Linked DNA regions of Homo sapiens: regions 1, 3 and 4 are each linked to region 2. Evidence: fine-mapped expression QTL. A gene starts in region 2. Each other region holds a variant in brackets. All regions are shown on one strand. Distances are from middle to middle.

Region 1 (5,150 bases), 25 kb before region 2:
TGGTCTTAGCAAACGGCACACCAGGAGATTATATCCTGCACCTGGCTCGGAGGGTCCCATGCCCACAGAGCCTCGCTCATTGCTAGCACGGCAGTCTGAGATCGAACTGCAAGGTGGCAGCGAGGCTGGGGGAGGGGCACCCGCCATTGCTGAGGCTTAAGTAGGTAAACAGAGCTGCAGGGAAGCTCGAACTGGGTGGAGCCCACTGCAGCTCAAGGAGGCCTGCCTGCCTCTGTAGACTCCAACTCTGGGGGCAGGGCATAGCCAAACAAAAGGCAGCAGAAACCTCTGCAGACTTAAATGTCCCTGTCTGACAGCTTTGAAGAGAGTAGTGCTTCTCCCAGCATGCAGCTTGAGATCTGAGAACGGACAGACTGCCTCCCCAAGTGGGTCCCTGACCCCCGAGTAGCCTAACTGGGAGGAACCCCCCAGTAGGGGCAGACTGACACCTCACATGGCCGGGTACCCCTCTGAGACGAAGCTTCCAGAGGAACGATCAGCAGAAACATTTGCTGTTCAGCAATATTCGCTGTTCTACAACCTCCACTGCTGATACCCAGGCAAACAGGGTCTGGAGTGGACCTCCAGCAAACTCCAACAGACCTGCAGCTGAGGGTCCTGACTGTTAGAAGGAAAACTAACAAACAGAAAGGACATCCACACCAAAACCCCATCTCTACGTCACCACCATCAAAGACCAAAGGTAGATACAACCACAAAGATGGGGAAAAAACAGAGCAGAAAAGCTGAAAATTCTAAAAATCAGAGCACCTCTCCCCCTCCAAAGGAACGCAGCTCTTCTCCAGCAACGGAACAAAGCTGGACCGAGAATGATTTTGACAAGTTGAGAGAAGAAGGCTTCAGATGATCAAACTTCTCTGAGCTAAAGGAGGAAGTTCGAATCCATCGCAAAGAAGCTAAAAACGTTGAAAAAAGATTAGACGAATGGCTAAATAGAATAACCAGTGTAGAGAAGTCCTTAAATGACCTTATGGAGCTGAAAACCATGGCATGAGAACTACGTGACAAATGCATAAGCTTTAGTAGCTGATTCGGTCAACTGGAAGAAAGGGTATCAGTGATTGAAGATCAAACGAATGAAATGAAGCGAGAAGAGAAGTTTAGAGAAAAAAGAGTAAAAAGAAATGAACAAAGCCTCCAAGAAATATGGGACTATGTGAAAAGACCAAATCTGTGTCTGATTGGTGTACCTGAAAGTGATGGGGAGAATGGAACCAAGTTGGAAAACACTCTGCAGGATATTGTCCAGTAGAACTTCCCCAACCTAGCAAGGCAGGCCAACATTCAACTTCAGGAAATACAGAGAACGCCACAAAGATACTCCTCGAGAAGAGGAACTCCAAGACACAAAACTGTCAGATTCACCAAAGTTGAAATGAAGGAAAAAATGTTAAGGGCTGCCAGAGAGAAAGGTTGGGTTACCCACAAAGGGAAGCCCATCAGATTAACAGCGGATCTCTTGGCAGAAACTCTACAAGCCAGAAGAGAGTCGGGGCCAATATTTAACATTCTTAAAGAAAAGCATTTTCAACCCAGAATTTCATATCCAGCCAAACTAAGCTTCAGAAGTGAAGAAGAAATAAAATCCTTTACAGACAAGCAAATGCTGAGAGATTTTGTCACCACCAGGCCTGCCCTACAAGAGCTCCTGAAGGAAGCACTAAACATGGAAAGGATCAGCCGGTACCAGCCACTGCAAAAACATGCCAAATTGTAAAGACCATTGATGCTAGGAAGAAACTATATCAAGTAACGAGCAAAATAACTAGCTAACATCATAATGACAGGATCAAATTCACACATAACAATATTAACCTTAAATGTAAATGGGCTAAATGCTCCAATTAAAAGACACAGACTGGCAAATTGGATAAAGACTCAAGACCCATCAGTGTGCTATATTCAGGAGACCCATCTCGCGTGCAGAGACACACATAGGCTCAAAATAAAGGGATGGAGGAAATTCTACCAAGCAAATGGAAACAAAAAAAGGCAGGGGTTGCAATCCTAGTCTCTGATAAAACAGACTTTAAACCAACAAAGATCAAAAGAGACAAAGAAGGCCATTACATAATGGTAAAGGGATCAATTCAACAAGAAGAACTAACTATCCTAAATATATATGCACCCAATACAGGAGCACCTAGATTCATAAAACAAGTCCTTAGAGACCTACAAACAGACTAAGACTCCACACAATAATAATGGGAGACTTTAACACCCCACTGTCAGCATTAGACAAATCCATGAGACAGAAAGTTAACAAGGATGTCCAGGAATTGAACTCAGCTCTGCACCAAGTGGACCTAATAGACATCTACAGAACTCTCCACCCCAAATCAACAGAATATACATTCTTCTCAGCA[A/C]CACATCGCACTTATTCCAAAATTTACTTCCAAAATAGTTGGAAGTAAAGCACTCCTCAGCAAATGTAAAAGAACAGAAATTATAACAATCTCTCAGACCACACTGCAATCAGACTAGAACTCAGGTTAAGAAACTCACTCAAAATCGCTCAACTACATGGAAACTGAACAACCTGCTCCTGAATGACTACTGGGTACATAATGAAATGAAGACAGAAATAAAGATGTTCTTTGAAACCAATGAGAACAAAGACACAACATACCAGAATCTCTGGGACACATTCAAAGCAGTGTGTAGAGGGAAATTTATAGCACTAAATGCCCACAAGAGAAAGCAGGAAAGATCTAAAATTGACACCCTAACATCACAATTAAAAGAACTAGGGAAGCAAGAGCAAATAAATTCAAAAGCTAGCAGAAGGCAAGAAATAACTAAGATCAGAGCGGAGCTGAAGGAGATAGAGACACAAAAAACCCTTCAAAAAAATCAATGAATCCAGGAGCTGGTTTTTTGAAAAGATCAACAAAATAGATAGACCACTAGCAAGACTAATAAAGAAGAAAAGAGAGAAGAATCAAATAGATGCAATAAAAAATGATAAAGGGGATATCACCACTGATCCCACAGAAATACAAACTACCATCAGAGAATACTATAAATACCTCTACGCAAATAAACTAGAAAATCTAGAAGAAATGGATGAATTCCTGGACACATACACCCTCCCAAGACTAAACCAGGAAGAAGCGGAATCCCTGAATAGACCAATAACAGGCTCTGAAGTTGAGGCAATAATTAATAGCCTACCAACCAAAAAAAGTCCAGGAGCAGACGGATTCACAGCCGAATTCTACCAAGGTACAAGGAGGAGCTGGTACCATTCCTTCTGAAAGTATTCCAATCAATAGAAAAAGAGGGAATCCTCCCTAACTCATTTTATGAGGCCAGCATCATCCTGATACCAAAGCCTGGCAGAGACACAACAAAAAAAGAGAATTTTAGACCAATATCCCTGATGAACATCGATGCAAAAATCCTCAATAAAATACTGGCAAACCGAATCCAGCAGCACATCAAAAGGCTTATACACCATGATCAAATGGGCTTCATCCCTGGGATGCAAGGCTGGTTCAACATATGCAAATCAATAAATGTAATCCAGCATATAAACAGAACCAAAGACAAAAACCACATGATTATCTCAATAGATGCAGAAAAGGCCTTTGACAAAATTCAACAGTCCTTCATGCTAAAAACTCTCAATAAATTAGGTATTGATGGGACGTATCTCAAAATAATAAGAACTATTTATGACAAACCCACAGCTAATATCATACTGAATGGGCAAAAACTGGAAGCATTCCCTTTGAAAACTGGCACAAGACAGGGATACCCTCTCTCACCACTCCTATTCAACATATTGTTGGAAGTTCTGGCCAGGGCAATCAGGCAGGAGAAAGAAATAAAGGGTATTCAATTAGGAAAAGAGGAAGTCAAATTGTCCCTGTTTGCAGATGACATGATTGTATATTTAGAAAACCCCATCGTCTCAGCCCAAAATCTTAAGCTGATAAGCAACTTCAGCAAAGTCTCAGGATACAAAATCAATGTGCAAAAATCACAAGCATTCTTACACACCAATAACAGACAAACAGAGAGCCAAATCATGAGTGAACTCCCATTCACAGTTGCTTCAAAGAGAATAAAATACCTAGGAATCCAACTTACAAGGGATGTGAAGGACCTCTTCAAGGAGAACTGCAAACCACTGCTCAACAAAATAAAACAGGACAGAAACAAATGGAAGAACATTCCATCCTCATGGATAGGAAGAATCAATATCATGAAAATGGCCATACTGCCCAAGGTAATTTATAGATTCAATGCCATCCCCATCAAGCTACCAATGGCTTTCTTCACAGAATTGGAAAAAACTACTTTAAAGTTCATATGGCACCAAAAAAGAGCCCGCATTGCCAAGTCAATCCTAAGCCAAAAGAACAAAGCTGGAGGTATCACGCTGCCTGACTTCAAACTATACTACAAGGCTGCAGTAACCAAAACAGCATGGTGCTGGTACCAAAACAGAGATATAGACCAATGGAAAAGAACAGAGCCCTCAAAAATAATACCACACATCTACAACTATCTGATCTTTGACAAACCTGAGAAAAACAAGACATGGGGAAAGGATTCCCTATTTAATAAATGGTGCTGGGAAAACTGGCTAGCCATATGTAGAAAGCTGAAACTGGATCCCTTCCTTACACCTTATACAAAAATTAATTCAAGATGGATTAAAGACTTAAATGTTAGACCTAAAACCATAAAAACCCTAGAAGAAAACCTAGGCAGTACCATTCAGGACATAGGCATGGGCTAGGACTTCATGTTTAAAACACCAAAAGCAATGGCAACAAAAGCCAAAATAGACAAATGGGATCTAATTAAACTAAAGAGCTTCTGCACAGCAAAAGAAACTACCATCAGAGTGAACAGGCAACCTACAGAATGGGAGAAAATTTTTGCAGTCTACTCATCTGACAAAGGGCTAATATCCAGACTCTACGAAGAACTCAAATTTACAAGAAAAAAACAACCCCATCAAAAAGTGGGCAAAGGATATGAGCAGACACTTCTCAAAAGAAGACATTTATGCAGCCAACAGACACATGAAAAAACGCTCATCATCACTGGCCATCAGAGAAATGCAAATCAAAACCACAATGCAACACCATCTCACACCAGTTAGAATGGCAATC
Region 2 (5,150 bases):
CTTCTTTCACAACAACCTCAAACTTCATTCCAACAAGATAGTACAGCCTGTGTGTTACTATTCATGCCACACGGTTTTTCCCCAACTGTACCTTGGCCCCCTGCCTCTCTAGATGACTCATTGACTCACCTGGCCCAGCCCAATCCATCTTGACCTTCCCTCCTGCCTACCAATTTTCCCCACCCCCTATAGGTGCCCCACTGATTGTTGACACATTGCATTGTGATTATCTGATTTAAGTGGAAGCTTCCTGAGAACTCTAGCACTAGCGTAGTATTAGTCTAGGTTCAGGGCCAACTGTTGCATTTAGATACTCCTCTGCCATCCTTGATACCTGGGTTCACATCGGTGTAACTGCCCATTAGCGTAACTGCCCAACAGGTTTCTCCTTGCCTGCTGCCCAGATAGAACAGACTTATCAAGACAGGAGAATTGCAATAGAGAAAGAGTTTAATTCACACAGAACCAGCTAAATGGGAAACCAGAGTTTTATTACTCAAATCAGTCTCCCCGGAAATTCAGAGACTGGAGTTAGTAAGGATAATTTGGCAGGCCAGGGAGTGGGGAGTGCTGATTGGTCAGGTAGGAGATGAAATCACAGGGGATCAAAGGGGGTTCTTGCAGTCTTCCGTTCCTAAGTGGGATCAAAGAACTGGTGGAACCAGATCACCAGCCTGGATGGTGTCAGCTGGTGCATCAGGATGCAGGGTCTGAAAAATACCTTGAGCACCAATTTAGGTTTTACAATAGTGATGTTATCCCTAGGAACAGTTGGGGAGGTTGGAATTGTGTGGCCTCTGGCTGCATGACTCCTAAACCATAATTTCTAATGTTGTGGCTAATTTGTTAGTCTTACTAGGGAAGTCTGCTCCCCAGGCAAGAAGGGGGTTTGTTTCCAGAAAGGGCTGTTATCCTCTTTGTTTCAAAATTAAACTAAGCTAAATTCCTCCCAAAGTTAGTTTGGCCTACAACCAGGAATTAACAAGGGCAGCTTGGAAGTTAGAAGCAAGATGGAGATGGTGAGGTCAGATCCCTTTCACTGTCATAACTTTCTCACTGTTACAATTTTTGCAAAGGCAGTTTCACAGGGCAGATGAAGATTTACTTAAATGTCTCATGATGGTGATGATGGTAGCTAATATTCATTGAGCAGTTACTATGTACCAGATATTGTTCTAAGTGCTTTAAATAAATTAGCTTGAAACTATCATTCTCAGCAAACTATCTCAAGAACAAAAAACCAAACACTGCATGTTCTCACTCATAGGTGGGAATTGAACAGTGAGAACACTTGGACACAGGAAGGGGAACATCACACACCGGGGCCTGTCATAGGGTCGGGGGAAGGGGGAGGGAAAGCATTAGGAGATATACCTAATGTAAATGACGAGTTAATGGGTGCAGCACACCAACATGGCACATGTATACATATGTAACAAATTTGCACGTTGTGCACATGTACCCTAGAACTTAAAGTATAATAATAATAAAAAAAAGTAAAATACAAAAAAAAAGAAATAAAAAAATAATTAAAAAATTAGCTCATTTGGCATTCACAGTAATCTTACAGGGTACCTACTATTAGTATCCTCATTTTAGCAATGAGGGTTAGGAAAAGTTAATTAAGTTTTCTAAGATTGCACAGTTACTAAAACTAGAATCTGCATGCAAACCCAGGCAGCCTGACTCTAGAGCCTGTAACCTTCAGCACCACCTCATGTCGCCCCAAGTTCATGTTTTTCAGGGGCCTTCTCCCATTTCTCAGTCATTTCCTCTCTCAAGAGAGGAGGAGAAGGAAGGGCCAAGAAGACAACATTGCTGGTGCCTTTTTTATTTATTCAGTTTACCTAAATTCTCTCATCATTACCAAATGACACATACTGTGAGCCAGGTTGAGACCCATCTTTTCTTAGTTTTATCGATATCTGTTTACTTAACCACAAAGATAACTTTTTTACTCCCAAATTTGAGTGATTAGTAAAGAGCTACATAATGTAACCAGTTTTGCTTTTCACAAGACATCTCTATTTCTCAGTGGGCTGAAAACCACACTTTTGCTTCCTCTTTACTTTGCAGTGAGAGCACAGCATTTGTCACTCAACCTCTGAATGTTAGTGACACTATTGGGACGAAAAAGGACTGTGCTGGCCCAAATGGCAGGCATCTCATATGTGGCATCTTTCTTTCTCCTTCTGAGTAAGTTTCATAATCCTTTATGTTTCTCTTGTCACAGGAGTTCATCAACTCAGGGTGCTGAGTGATGGAACAGGACAATTTGGTCTCTACAGGAACAACTATGCCATATATTTCTGATGTTAGCAATAATTTTTGACTTACTAATGACAGTTCTTGGCTTACCTAGACATCCTTGAGTTCCAGGGAGTCACAATGCTTGGTTGAGTCCCATGCACAAGATTCCATTGGTTTTAACATTTGTGTGTGTTGCCAGATCTGTCAGTTTTGCTTGGCCCTGGCTTTACTCATCTTCCTGGGCCGATCATCCCAAGAGACAGTAAAAAAGCTTTGTGTCCCAAACTGAGAGGAGACCTTAAGGTTTGCCTGATATTAAGGCTTGATGGGATAACTATGCCTTGCAGATATGACTGGATGGAAAGAAAGGTTATGAAAGTACTTAGTAGTTTTAGACTATGCTAAAAGAAGGTTCTAGATTTCACCTGCGAGTGGAAGTGGAAATTGACTACTGAGAGACTGAGAAATGAACAGGAAGATTCACTTGGCTCTACTGAGGGCCATGCAGAGGGGCTTGCCTGATCTAGGGGCATTTATCTATGTTTGAATAGGATGGAAGAAGAGAAAATTTGGAGGTAGAAGGGAGAGTCAGATGAGTTGAGCAGGTAATGGAATAGTTTCAAACCAGATAGCAGGTACTTTTTATGCTACAGTTTTCATTAACATCTGGTAAAGAGAATAGACTCCATCTCAGAATAATGTTTAAAATGCATAAAATAAAATGCATAGAATTACAGAGGAAATCAGTCACATTGAAATACAGGTATCAAAATATTTTAAATAAATTATAATGCAGTAATTTATTTGCTTCTTATTTATGCATTACATAACAAAATCTACAGGTAGGTCTTTTAACCACCAAACTTCAAAGTAATGATGAGTATAAATAACATTTCAATATATCTTAAGTAGTTGTAATGTGATATGAAGATATCTGTGGTTGTCTACATACATAACTGAAGAAAATACTAAATTTCCATTAGAGGCAAAAATGAAAATAAAGATGTAAGATTATTTTTCACCCTAGTTTATGGACCCTTTAATCCTACATGTGGACCCAGTTAAGAACTCTTGCTTTATAGCTGGGCATGGTGGCACATACCTGTGGCCCTAGCTACTTGGGAGGCTGAGGTGGGAGAATCGCTTGAACCTGGGAGGTGGAGGTTGCAGTGAGCCAAGATTGAGCCACTGCACTCCAGCCTGGGTGACAGAGTGAGATTCCATCTAAAAAAACAAACAAACAAACAAAACTCTTGCTTTAGAGAGACTGGATGGAGCCAGTGCAGGGACCCGAATGGCTGGGATGATTGGGGAACTAAACCAAGCTGCATTTGGTGTGACCAGGACTATGGCTGAAGAATTAAAAGAAAAGAATACAGCATTCAGCACAAAGAGGTTGCTTAATAAACATTGATTGAGTTGAATTGTGCTCATGTCTCTAGGTACATATGATAGTGTGAGGTTAAGAGTCAGACCTAGGGCCTGCAGGGGAAGTTACTGGGACCACTTGCTGGGTGACGGATGCCTGCCAGACTGGCTTGGCGGGTGTTGATGGATAGGTGCACTGGTGGGATCCTTTGGGGGCTGGTGTGTTTTTGTTGTTTGGTTAAGTTGTCTGAGTGTGATTCTCAAGTGTATGTGCTTTGTGTATTTGAATTCTATGTTTGCTATGTATATAGGAGGAAACTGGGTTTACATTGTGCAATAATTCATAGAATTGCAAATTCTGTCTCTTTTTTTGGTAAGCAGGCTAGAAGCCCTGGGGGAAGGAAAGTAGTAATCAAGGCTCAAAAAGGGGAAGCTGGAAGCTTTTCCTTAACCCATTTAAACAATTACCTAAACTGGGTTATACATTTACTTCTTCTAAATTCTGACTCATCTGAAGCACTAATTTTGTGTAGAAGCACAGTTTTTATGTGAAGAATACATAAATCAGGAAGTTACTGGAAAAAGCTTTAGAAGTCTGCTGTTTGTCCTTACAAATATAGAGGGGAATTGAAATAAATTATTTAAATAACGATCTATTGATCAATTACATTGGTTAGCAAATTTACACTTTGTCCCAATTTTTTTTTAGTAAATATAAGGACTGAACAATCCTGATAGAAAATGGTGCCATATGAGATTAATGTCATGGGTAAATGAGTTCTCGGATTTAGCAGTTAGCTTTGTCTGCTTGATCTATTTCCCCCACCCAAACTAGCTGCCCTACAAATAATGGCCATTAATATGGCAGGGTTTGGGGGAAGGGCTATTGTCTGTCTTACTGAGTTTGCATTCATGAAAAATAAAAAAGATTCCACTTAGTATGGATGGAAGCTATCTCAGCCTCCAAGCATATAGGGTTTTTGAATGTGAAAAGAGAAAGAAGCTGCTTGTTATGTTGGCTATTCCTGAGGTAGGTTTTGTATAAGGTAGCATTATTTGAAACTGCTGTTTTTTTGGTATAAAAAGTGCTCAAGTATGGACCATTTTATACAGTTCAACCTAATCGTTTTCATTCAAATAATACTGCAGTGGTAAATTTGACAATTCCAGTGATATTTTTAAAGAAAGTCAATACCATCGAGGAATTTTTGGTGTTTTGAAAGCATGATTCTAATGTTAGTATGTCAGTGCCAAGCTTTGTACTCATCAGCCAACAAGAATATGAGCTACTATTCAAAAGTAGCTAACCCTCTACCCATTAAAAGAGAGAGCAAGAGGGCAGTCCTCACAGGTGTTTTTCGGAGGGTGGATGATATGTACTTGAAAAAACCCAGAGAGAATATATTTATAGTAAGATGCTTAAGCTTATGGCCCCAGTGCATAGCCATTTGAGTTGATCTCTGCCAGTCATGCCTTCTACCTGAAAAATACCTTTGAAATCTCCACACTATTTCTTTCACTTTTCTCAGAAA
Region 3 (5,150 bases), 48 kb after region 2:
AGCAAATAATTAGTTTGGAATCTGTATTAGTCTGCTTGGGCTGCCATAACAAAATACCACCGATGGGGTGGCTGAAATAACAGATACTCATTTTCTCACAGTTCTGTAGGCTGGAAGTCCCAGTCAAAGTGCCAGATGATGTGGATTTTGGTGAGGACTCTCTTTCTGGCTTGTAGACAAGCCACCTTCTCACTGTGTAGTCACATGGCATGACAAAGAAGGCAAACTCTCTGGTCTCTTCTTAGAAGGGCACTAATACCATCATGACCCATCCTCATGACCTCATCTAAACCTAATTATCTCCCAAAGGCCCCATCTTCAAATACCAACACACTGGGGGCTGGGACTTCAATATGTGAATTATGGGAAACATCATTCAGACTATAGCCAAATTGACAGCATAATTAATGAACTGGACTGTGGCTTGTCCTGTACCTATCCAAGGTGTGCACTCTTCATGTCTGTTAACATAGTTCAGATGGAGTAAGTTATCTGAGTGCTACAGGTTTGGTATTTTTTACTGTGCATGTGTACACTTGGGTAGGATTACAACTTAAGAGCAAAACCAGTCAAGTGAACTGAGTAGAATTTCCCCACCTGCCACTTAGCAATGCTCCAGCTCTTCCATCAGAAATAGGTGATCACTGAAGTGTCAGAAACAGTGTCATCATGAAAGAGTGTAAAGATGGAAAGGGATTGCTTAAACATGCATGCAGAGCTCTGGGTGGGAATACAGAAACCCTTGACACCTCCTCCTCTGCAGCTGATCATTAATGCTGTTTCTGTCTGCCCTGAACTCAAGGAGAAATGTGGAGGGTCGAGCAGGGAGGATAGTGGGGAAAGCAGGAGAAGAAGAGAAACAGAGAGAAGAAACAGTGACAATTAGCACATAAGAGTGAGAAGGCAGAAATAAAAGCCAACAAACTACAGAGAAAAAAGAATTGACCAGCTTCTGCCCCATCCAGCTCTGCTCTGAGGCTCAAGTGGGTCTCTCGGATCCACCGTGCCAGCAGTGCTTGCAGCTCCCGAAGAAACTGCTGACCCAGAGAAGGAAGAAGGCTGAGTGCTTGCAGGAAGAAACCCTTCAGACACCAGGGGAGGCAGCAAGCCCCACCACACTGAGGCAAGGCCTGTCTCTGTGGTACAGCAGACAGGAGAAGTCCTGTCTTACTGTGTGTGGAAACAGGTGTGTGGGCTTCCGCTTAGAGTTAGGTGGAAGTTCAGTCTGCAAGGGAGGGTGAGAAAGTACTAAAGAGGAACAGAAGAGCTGGGAAGAGCTAGATCTTTTGAAGGGGATGTCTGCTTCTGCACCACGTGACAGTGGAGGATGCCTTGGATCTTCATCAAAAGAGGTAACTTCCTCTTCTCCTTGAGAGACGCAGCAAATCCCTCACTTACAACTTAGAACCTTCCTAGCTTTCATCCAAATGCATGTAAACCTTGAGAGAGCACCAAGAGGGAGAGAAAGGAGGCGACAGATTCTATAAGAAGTGAGACATGACAGTGTTGTGAGACAAATTGACGTAGGAGATGGTGGTGTGACTGAATCACTAGCCTAGTGTGAGGCGAGGGCCTCTGTTCTGAAGAGCCACCCCACTGAGGCCTCTGGGCTGCTTCCTGTGCTGCTCACCAAGAAAATGCCATGCCATGCTAGGCGCGGTGGCTCACGCCTGTAATCCCAGCACTTTGGGAGGCCGAGGCGGGCGAATCACCTGAGGTCAGGAGTTCGAGACCAGCCTGGCCAACACAGTGAAACCCCATCTCTACTAAAAATACAAAAATTGACCGGGAGTGGTGACGCACGCTTGTAATCCCAGCTACTCAGGAGGCTGAGGCGGGAGAATCGCTTGAACCCAGGAGGCAGAGGTTGCAGTGAGCCGAGATGGTGCCATTGCACTCCAGCCTGGGTGACAGAGCGAGATTCTGTCTCAAAAAAAAAAAAGAAAAGAAAGAAAGAAAATG[A/C]CATGCCAAGTTAAACTCACTTCCTTTTCTGATGTGCTGCTTTCTGCTAGGCTGGTAAGTCATGGGACAGCTATAGATTCCGCATGCATGAACTGCAGCAAGGCCTTTGAACAAGAGGAACAACGTGGACACTATGTGACTCCATGCTTGGGTGAATGATCATACCCAAGGTGTAAAGACCATGGCAACGTGTTTACCTGTAGGAGATCTCTCCAGGTCTTGCTAAAGCACTCTGCCTTGTTGAGCATTTTTATTGGCAACTTGGATGAAGGGAAAGACAGCAGGCTTGTCAAGTTGACACAGAATTAGGAGATGGCACTAATAAGTCAGTTGACAGGAACAAGATTCAAAGAGATCTGGATAACCTAGAATAATGAATCAAAATTAACATGAAATATAGAATCCATAGTTAAGTTTAGGCAATTAGATGCACCAGATAGGGGAGATGAGCTCACGCATGAAAAATGAAAACAGTGTTTTGGTTGATTGCACACTTGATATATATTATTAGCATAACATACTTATTGAAAAAACAGAGAAAAAGATTTAGAGTTTTCCATTTCATATATAAAATGGTCATATCCAAAATAAAGGAGATAATTATCCCACGGCATTTTTCATATTGAATTTTCTTTGGGATGCCTCAAATTAAGCATACATTCATCAAAAAATACTGGCGAAACCCCATCTCTACTAAAAATACAAAAATTAGCCAGGTGTGGTGGCATGTGCCTGTAATTCCAGCTACTCGGGAGGCTGAGGCAGGAGAATCGCTTGAACCCAGGAGGCAGAGGTTGCAGTGAGCTGAGATCGTGCCACTGCACTCCAGCCTGGGCAAAAGAGTGAGACTCTGTCTCAAAAAAGAAAAAGCAAAATACTGGTGAGGGGGTGTCGGAGGGAGAAAAGTAATTGATGCAGTTGGACAAGTTTCTCTGGGCAAAGAGAATGCATGTGAAGTGCAGAGAGGATGAAATAGTCATATTCATATATTTTAAAGTGATGTAAAAATGGATCAGGTGTATTTTGTTTAATTCCACATGACAAGAAAGTGGAAGTTTCAGACAGAAAGATTTCTGCTCAATATGCATTAGAATTAACTAACATTTCGACACACCCAAACAGAACTTGCTATAACCAGAAGTTTCTATGCTGAATCCATTAGGGATGCTGTGGAAGGGATTTGGGAGGATGCATTAGGTGGCTTTAGGGTTCCTTCTACCCTATGATTTCATCCATTCCATTTAACAGATACTTATGGAATGTTTACATGCTGTGTATACAGTGATTAGTGAGCCAAACAGAAATAAGTCCCTGCTTTCTTGGCAATTACACATATAGTCCATGGAGAAGACAGACGATAAACAAGTCAACAGACAACTCTGAAATAAATGTTATGTGGAAAGCAAACCGGATACTGAGAGAGAACAAGGAAGAACCTTTGTAGATAAAGTAGTCAGGGCAAGTCTCACTGAGATGGTGCTTGCTGAGACCTACAGGATGAAGGGCTAAGTTTTTAAAGAACTGAGGAAAGCATTCCAGGCAGAAAGCACAATATGAATGCAGGCCTTAGGGTAATACAAAGCTTGGCACACTGAGGAACAGAAAACAGGTTAGGGCGGCTGCAATATAATGGGTGAGGAGTGGCGTGGCTGTCTGTGAGAGTGAAAGCAGGAAGGGCCAAACCGTGCAGCGCCCGTAGGAACCAAAAGGATGACTTAACCTTTTTCTCTAAGTTTAACAGAAAGTCACTGAAGAGTTATAGGCAAAGTAACAGAACCTGACTCATGTTTTAAAAGGTTGATGAGTTCTTTAAGGCCATTTTAGTACTAAAAAATAGCAGCAAAAACCAGAGGCTGCTCTGCTCTGGCTCCCAGGTTAACTCAGAAAGGAAAAGGAGGGAGAACCAGGAAGAACTCTGCCAGAGTTTTCTCAGCTACTAAGATCCCAGCATCCAAGGAGGCTTAAAAACTTCATGGCAAAAGTCTTCAGAGCATTGGGTAGTATTGTTTACGCTCAGCTTGAGAACCTGGAATCCACCTTAGTGCCATTTGTTGCTTTCCAGAAAAAATGCAACTCAGAAACAAAAAGAAAACAGAAAACAAAACAAACAAGAGGCCGGGTGCAGTGGCTCACGCCTGTAGTCCCAACACGCTGGGAGGCCAAGGTGGGCAATCACTTGAGGCCAGGAGTTCGAGACCAACCTAGCTAACATGTTGAAGCCCCGTCTCTACTAAAAATACAAAAATTAGCTGGGCATAGTGGCATGCGCCTGTAATCTCAGCTACTCGGGAGGCTGAGGCAGGAGAACTGCTTGAGCCCGGGAGGCGAAGATTGTAGTGAACCGAGATCATGTCACTGCACTCCAGCCTGGGCGACAGAGTGAGACTCTGTCTCAAAAAACAAGGAAAAAAAAAAGAAATACAACTCAGGATGGCCACCAGAAAACAAGTACATAGCCACTGGAGGTCTTCAGGTTCTAGGTTATCTTGAATGTGTAAAGCAGCGAAGGTTTTAGGGAACAAATGAGCAGTGAGGGTTGAGGAGAAGGTTAGAATTAAGCAGAATAACTGGTATAGGGTTAGGGGGAAGAGGGAAAAAACAGCTTGGTATAAAACTTGAATTAGATACCAAAAAAATGGGTAGGAGGACATGAATAAGAAAGAAAGGATTAATTAGAGGAAAGTTAGGATTGAATAGCTAAGATGAGAACTAGGCAAGTTTAAGAGGTGTTCTGATGAAGGTACAGAGACGTGGGGCCTATGACTGCTCTACTGCTGACAGTATAATAACATTATATGCCATATAAAACAATGGGAGAAAAAAAGAAAAAAACACCAATAATCCTACCATCTTAAATAAGCATTGTTATTATTATTTTGGTACATCCTCTTTGTTATTGTTTTCTATGTGACTGCTTTCAATATCTTTATTGGATTTTAAAAATCGTAACAGAGCAATACATGCTAGTTGTAGAAAATAAAAACTGCACCAATCTCCCAACCCAACCTCCCAGAGGTATATAAATGGAATCATACAGCATATAGTCTTGAAAGTTAATAGTTTTGATGCCAGGTGTGATGGTGTACACATGATCCCAGCCCTTTGGGAGGCCAACGCGGCAGACTGCTTGAGCTCAGGAGTTTGAGACCAGCCTGGGCAACATGGTGAAACCCTGTCTCTACAAAAAA
Region 4 (5,150 bases), 22 kb after region 2:
CAAGCTAAAAGTGAATTCAAGGAGTCAAGTCCAAGAGCTCTCCATCAACTCCAACACTGATATAGAATGTAGCATCTTGTCCCGGTCCAATGGAAACCTTCAGTTAGCCATTATTTGGTATTTTTCTCCTGTTTCCACTAATGCCTCTTGGCTAAAGATCCTGGAGATGGACCAAACCAATGTTATAAAAACTGGGGATGAGTTTCACACCCCACAGAGAAAACAAAAATTTCATACTGAGAAGGTTTCCCAAGACTTATTTCAGCTGCACATTCTGAATGTGGAAGACAGCGATCGGGGCAAATATCACTGTGCTGTGGAGGAATGGCTCCTGTCTACAAATGGCACTTGGCACAAGCTTGGAGAAAAGAAGTCAGGACTAACAGAATTGAAACTCAAGCCCACAGGTAAACCTTGCGAGTGTATCCTCACAATGTCTGTCTGTCTGACGGCTGTTTTCTCTTGGGCAGCTGTTCTATGGAGTGATTATGTGGAAGTAAAAATATGACCTAAAGTCATAGGAACAGTATCTACCTACACATGACTGCAAGACCGAGTAGTCCACCAAAGGAGGGGAGGTCACTTAAGGCAATCCAATCTGAGGTTTTGGGGAGCTGAGGTAGGAGCAATATCCCTTTGATTGGTTTGCTTCTCAACCTGGCAGCCTGGTCTGTGCAGCTACCCAGGGTATCGTATCTCCAGATCTCTATCATAACAAGCTGTGTCATTCCAGTGGGGCTCTACTGTAATTTGGCAGAGAAAGAGTAATACGAAGCATATTTCTCCCACTGTGAACAGAAACTGTACAACTCTATGGGGATGTGTGGAGAAATTGCTTCTCAACATTTAGCTGCCTAAACATAAGGCAAATAAGAGTAGTTAACTGTTGGAATGGCTTACTGAGGGAGTCTCCTCTTCCTCAGGAGATCTTTAAAAATGTAATGGAAGTTCCGCACTGGTCTAAGAGTGCCACTGTCTAAATGTGGGCAGGGTTGATTAGGTCTCTCAGCATAGGTTAGGTCACTTCCAGTGTTGATTAAAATTAAATGAATGTCACAGCCAAGGTTCAGGAACTGGCCAAGATCCTACAGCACAATGCAGAGAAGTTGATCTAATTTGGTGCTTGAAATACTATTTTCAAGGTAACGCTAAAAAAAAATTAGATGATAATTGAGCATTACTATGTGTTAGGCAGTGGAATACAAAGATAAAGAAGGCACAGCCCTGGCCCTTAAGGAGCTCCCAGTCTGGTGGGACAACAAGGGCAGAACAGCAGCTTGGTTTGGGGTCTCTTCCTGCCCTCTGGCTTCCCTTCTGTATGTTCTTCAAGCCCCTTCTTCTCCCTGCTAAATGTGTGTGTTCCTCAGGGATAGATCCTGGGCCTGTTTTGCTTCTTATTCTCTGCTTTCCTCAGAATTTCTTAAACACTGCCCTGGTTTCAACTACCACCTTCTAGATGATAACTCTGAGATTTTGTGCTTAGCCCTGATCTCCTGAGCTCCAAGCCTTCATACCCAACTGCCTGCTGTACATTTCTACTTGGATGCCCCCATACTCAGCATGCCCTAAATTGCACTTAGCATCTCTGCCATCTCACCATGCTCATTTGCACTTCTGCATTTCCCATCTGTGTGATTGGCATTCTGTCTCCCAGTCATCCACACCAAACTCTTGACCACATGTGCATGGCCGTCTTCAGGAGGCAGCCACTGCTTAGCTCAAGTGCTTCCCATGTAGAAATGTGGGCTCCGTGTTGTCAGATCTTTTTGCATATCTAGAGATGCCTAAAATCTTTTTTGGTGACATCTCCCAGTTTGAGAATGTCCACAACTAATTCACTTCTTCTTTTTCTTTTTTTTTAGACGGAGTCTTGCTCTGTTGCTCAGGCTGGAGTCAGTGGTATGATCTTAGCTCACTGCAACCTCCTCCTCCTGGGTTCAAGCAATTCTCCTGCCTCAGCCTCCAGAGTAGCTGGGACTACAGGTGTGTGCCACCATGCCTGGCTAATTTTTGTAATTTTAGTAGAGACAGGGTTTTACCATGTTGCTCAGGCTGGTCTTGAACTCCTGACCTCAGGTGATCCACCTGCCTTGGCCTCCCAAAGTGCTGGGATTACAGGCGTGAGCCACTGCGCCCAGCCCAGTTCTCTTAAAATACTGCAAGTGTCAAGCAGAACATACCTGTGGGCTTGGTGTGGCTGTGGACTTCCGGTTGTGCACGTCATTTAGGGAACAAGTTAACCAAGAGGCCCCAGAAAGATGCTGAGAATGACTGGTCAGAGTTGTAAGGGGGATATTTTCTCTGAGGTTGGAAGAAAAGAAGTCAATTTCAAGGAGAAATTGGACTCCAGTAACAAAAACCACATAGAGGACAGAAAAGGACTAGAGGGTCCCTTGAACTGGGAAATTGGGCCCTGGCCAAGTAAAGTGATGGGATTGGAAGCCAGATCACAATAAAGTAGGAAGTAATTTGAGACAAGGAAACAGCAACAGTATTCCATGTGCTAATATTCCACGTGCTACTCCATGAAGGAAAGGGGAGAGTAAAAATGGTAACTAAGAAAGAGTCCAAGATCAGACAGAATTATTCTCTTAAAGACAGATTAATAAATGTGTTTGAGTCAGGCACAGTGGCTCATGCCTATAATCCCAGCACTTTGGGAGGCCAAGGTGGGCGGATCACCTGAGGTCAGGAGTTCGAGACCAGCCTGGCCAACATGGTGAAACCCTGTCTCTACTAAAAATAAAAAAGTTAGCCAGGCATGGTGGCCCATGCCTGTAATCCCAACTGCTCGGGAGGCTGAGGCAGGATAATCGCTTGAACCCGGGAGGCAGAGGTTGCGGTGAGCC[A/G]AGATTGTGCCACTGCACTCTAGCCTGGGCGACAGAGCGAGACTCCGTCTCAAAAAATAAATAAAATAAAAATAAATAAATAAATAAATAAATAAATAAATGTGTTTGTAGTGGAATTGAAAATGTAATGCACACTATAATTTCTTTATTTTGTTTGTAACTACTTTGGCTGTTATTCTAAATCCTCACCTGCTGGTTAGCAAGGGGAAAAAAAGTAAATGTCAAAATCTCTTTAAAACTCAGTCTAATCCAATCATCTAAATAGCTCCCATGGATGGCCTTCTAACACTTGCATCAAAATGTTCAGTCTCTTGGATGGCGTCCTCTCTCTCTGCGTTTACACCCAAGATAATATCTGGGTGTATGGGAGGAGAGTAATTTGCTAAGAATGAGGGGTACTGGTGGAATACATGGCTTGAGGGAGCTGCTAAAAGTTGTGAATGACCACTTTGGGAAGTAGAGGAGGAGTGAATCAAGGGTAAGTAAAAGCAGCAGGCAGAGGGCCCTGCAGAAGCTGTGTAGTTTTCAATGGCAGGGTCCAGCAGGCAAGCAGTTGGGCTAAAGAAGGAAAGAGGCTGGTTTGATTCCTAGCAGAGAATGTCCTGGCAAATGTGAGAGAAAAACAGGGACCAAGGACAAGAATTAAAATGAATGTGGCTGGACGTGGTGGCTCATGCCTGTAATCCCAACACTTTGGGAGGCTGAGGTGGGCAGATCACTTGAAGCCAGGAGCTCAAGAGCAATCTGGCCAACATGGTGAAACCCCGTCTCTACTAAAAATACAAAAATCAGCTGGGCATGGTGGCACACGCCTGTAATCCCAGCCACTTGGGAGGCTGAGGCAGGAGAATTGCTTGAACCCAGGAGGCAGTGGTTGCAGTGAGCTGAGATCATGCCACTGCACTCTGGCCTGGGTGACAGAGCAAGACTCTGTCTCAAAAAATAAAAATAATAAAAAAAATAAAATGAATGCACTGATGTCTAAAGAATATAAGATCTTCCCAGTGAGAACTAGATTTTTCAGAGGTGGTATCCAAATCTGAAAGTCTGCATTCTCTAATTTACTGCCATTTTATTTTCTAGGAAGTAAGGTACGTGTCTCCAAAGTGTACTGGACCGAAAATGTGACTGAGCACAGAGAAGTGGCCATCCGCTGCAGCCTGGAGAGTGTAGGCAGCTCAGCCACTCTGTACTCTGTGATGTGGTACTGGAACAGAGAAAACTCTGGAAGTAAATTGCTGGTGCACTTGCAACATGATGGCTTGCTGGAGTATGGGGAAGAGGGGCTCAGGAGGCACCTGCACTGTTACCGTTCATCCTCTACAGACTTTGTCCTGAAGCTTCATCAGGTGGAGATGGAGGATGCAGGAATGTACTGGTGTAGGGTGGCAGAGTGGCAGCTCCATGGACACCCAAGCAAGTGGATTAATCAAGCATCCGATGAGTCACAGCGGATGGTGCTCACGGTGCTGCCTTCAGGTAACCAGGGGTTTATCTACCGCGAGCTCATGGTCAGGAGAATACATGGCTCTCCTCTTATCCTCTCCCTCTCACCTATCTTTTGCTCCTTCTGAAGACAATTTTCAGACTGAAGACAATTTTCAGGTTCCCTAAAGAAGATGACTTTGCTGTCTCTCTCAATAGTAACTCATTTGAACAAACAAGGTCCACATGAGATTTTGGCATAGACACTTAAATATCGGGAGCATCTGACAGGTCCATGTCTTTCTGCTGGGGTTCAGGGAGAAGGTGGGAGGTGAGCAATAAGCTAAGCTTACTGAGGGAAAGGGCCATTGGAGAAGTAGGGGTGTGGTCTTGGTGCCAGACACCAGGAAGCACAAAGGGAAAATCATCAATAAAGGTAACAATCCTAAGAGACCAGCTAGCTTTAGTGACACTGCTTAGGAGGGACAGAATGCTGTTGAGAACATATGGGAACATCTAAGAAGTAGGGATAGGTGCATCCCAGCGCAGCAGGGCTTCCAGAGGGGAAGTCGAAGCTATCCGATTTGTTCCTTGAGGTGGTCCATCATTGTTTTTCCCTGTTCATTCCTCAGCAGAAGTTTTCTCCTGAGTGCCAGGCCAAAATGTTTTTTCTATCAGCCTTTTTCTTCTTTCCAACAATTACAGGAAGTCCCATACTCATGAGCACATTCCGTACATGTTTTCCCAGTGGAATTAATAGGCTCTGTAGAATCGGCAGTTTTTGCAGTAGAATAAATAGATAAGAACTGTAAAAAGTATACAGTCTGTGATGAAAAGCGTATCTTCTCTGAGGCAGATGGGATCCTTCATAGCATA

The links. PIP is the estimated chance that this variant, and not a neighbour inherited with it, causes the effect.
Region 1: its variant is the best candidate, but not a certain one, in a credible set for the expression of CD101 in whole blood (TOPMed, PIP 0.59).
Region 3: its variant is the best candidate, but not a certain one, in a credible set for the expression of CD101 in whole blood (INTERVAL, PIP 0.73).
Region 4: its variant is the best candidate, but not a certain one, in a credible set for the expression of CD101 in thyroid (GTEx, PIP 0.90).

Annotation. Positions count from the first base shown.
Region 1 is chr1:116,975,045-116,980,194 of GRCh38, forward strand. The region is part of intron 7 of PTGFRN (prostaglandin F2 receptor inhibitor); the gene reads left to right. Among named protein-coding and RNA genes, the nearest start is that of CD101, 24 kb to the right of the region's middle. The variant A/C (reference allele first, on the strand shown) is at 2,388.
Region 2 is chr1:116,999,665-117,004,814 of GRCh38, forward strand. It overlaps CD101 (CD101 molecule), which reads left to right and starts at 2,096. Exons shown (of 10, transcript NM_001256106.3): 1 at 2,096-2,196. The coding sequence starts at 2,154.
Region 3 is chr1:117,048,008-117,053,157 of GRCh38, forward strand. CD101-AS1 (CD101 antisense RNA 1) reads right to left here. Exons shown (of 4, transcript NR_110786.1): 2 at 2,160-2,327. Among named protein-coding and RNA genes, the nearest start is that of CD101-AS1, 8.9 kb to the right of the region's middle. RefSeq lists an enhancer at 3,978-4,067. The variant A/C (reference allele first, on the strand shown) is at 1,963.
Region 4 is chr1:117,021,577-117,026,726 of GRCh38, forward strand. It overlaps CD101 (CD101 molecule), which reads left to right. Exons shown (of 10, transcript NM_001256106.3): 7 at 1-407; 8 at 3,933-4,328. CD101-AS1 (CD101 antisense RNA 1) reads right to left here. Exons shown (of 4, transcript NR_110786.1): 4 at 3,906-5,150. LOC124904386 (a long non-coding RNA gene) reads right to left here and starts at 425. Exons shown (of 2, transcript XR_007066499.1): 1 at 1-425. The variant A/G (reference allele first, on the strand shown) is at 2,850.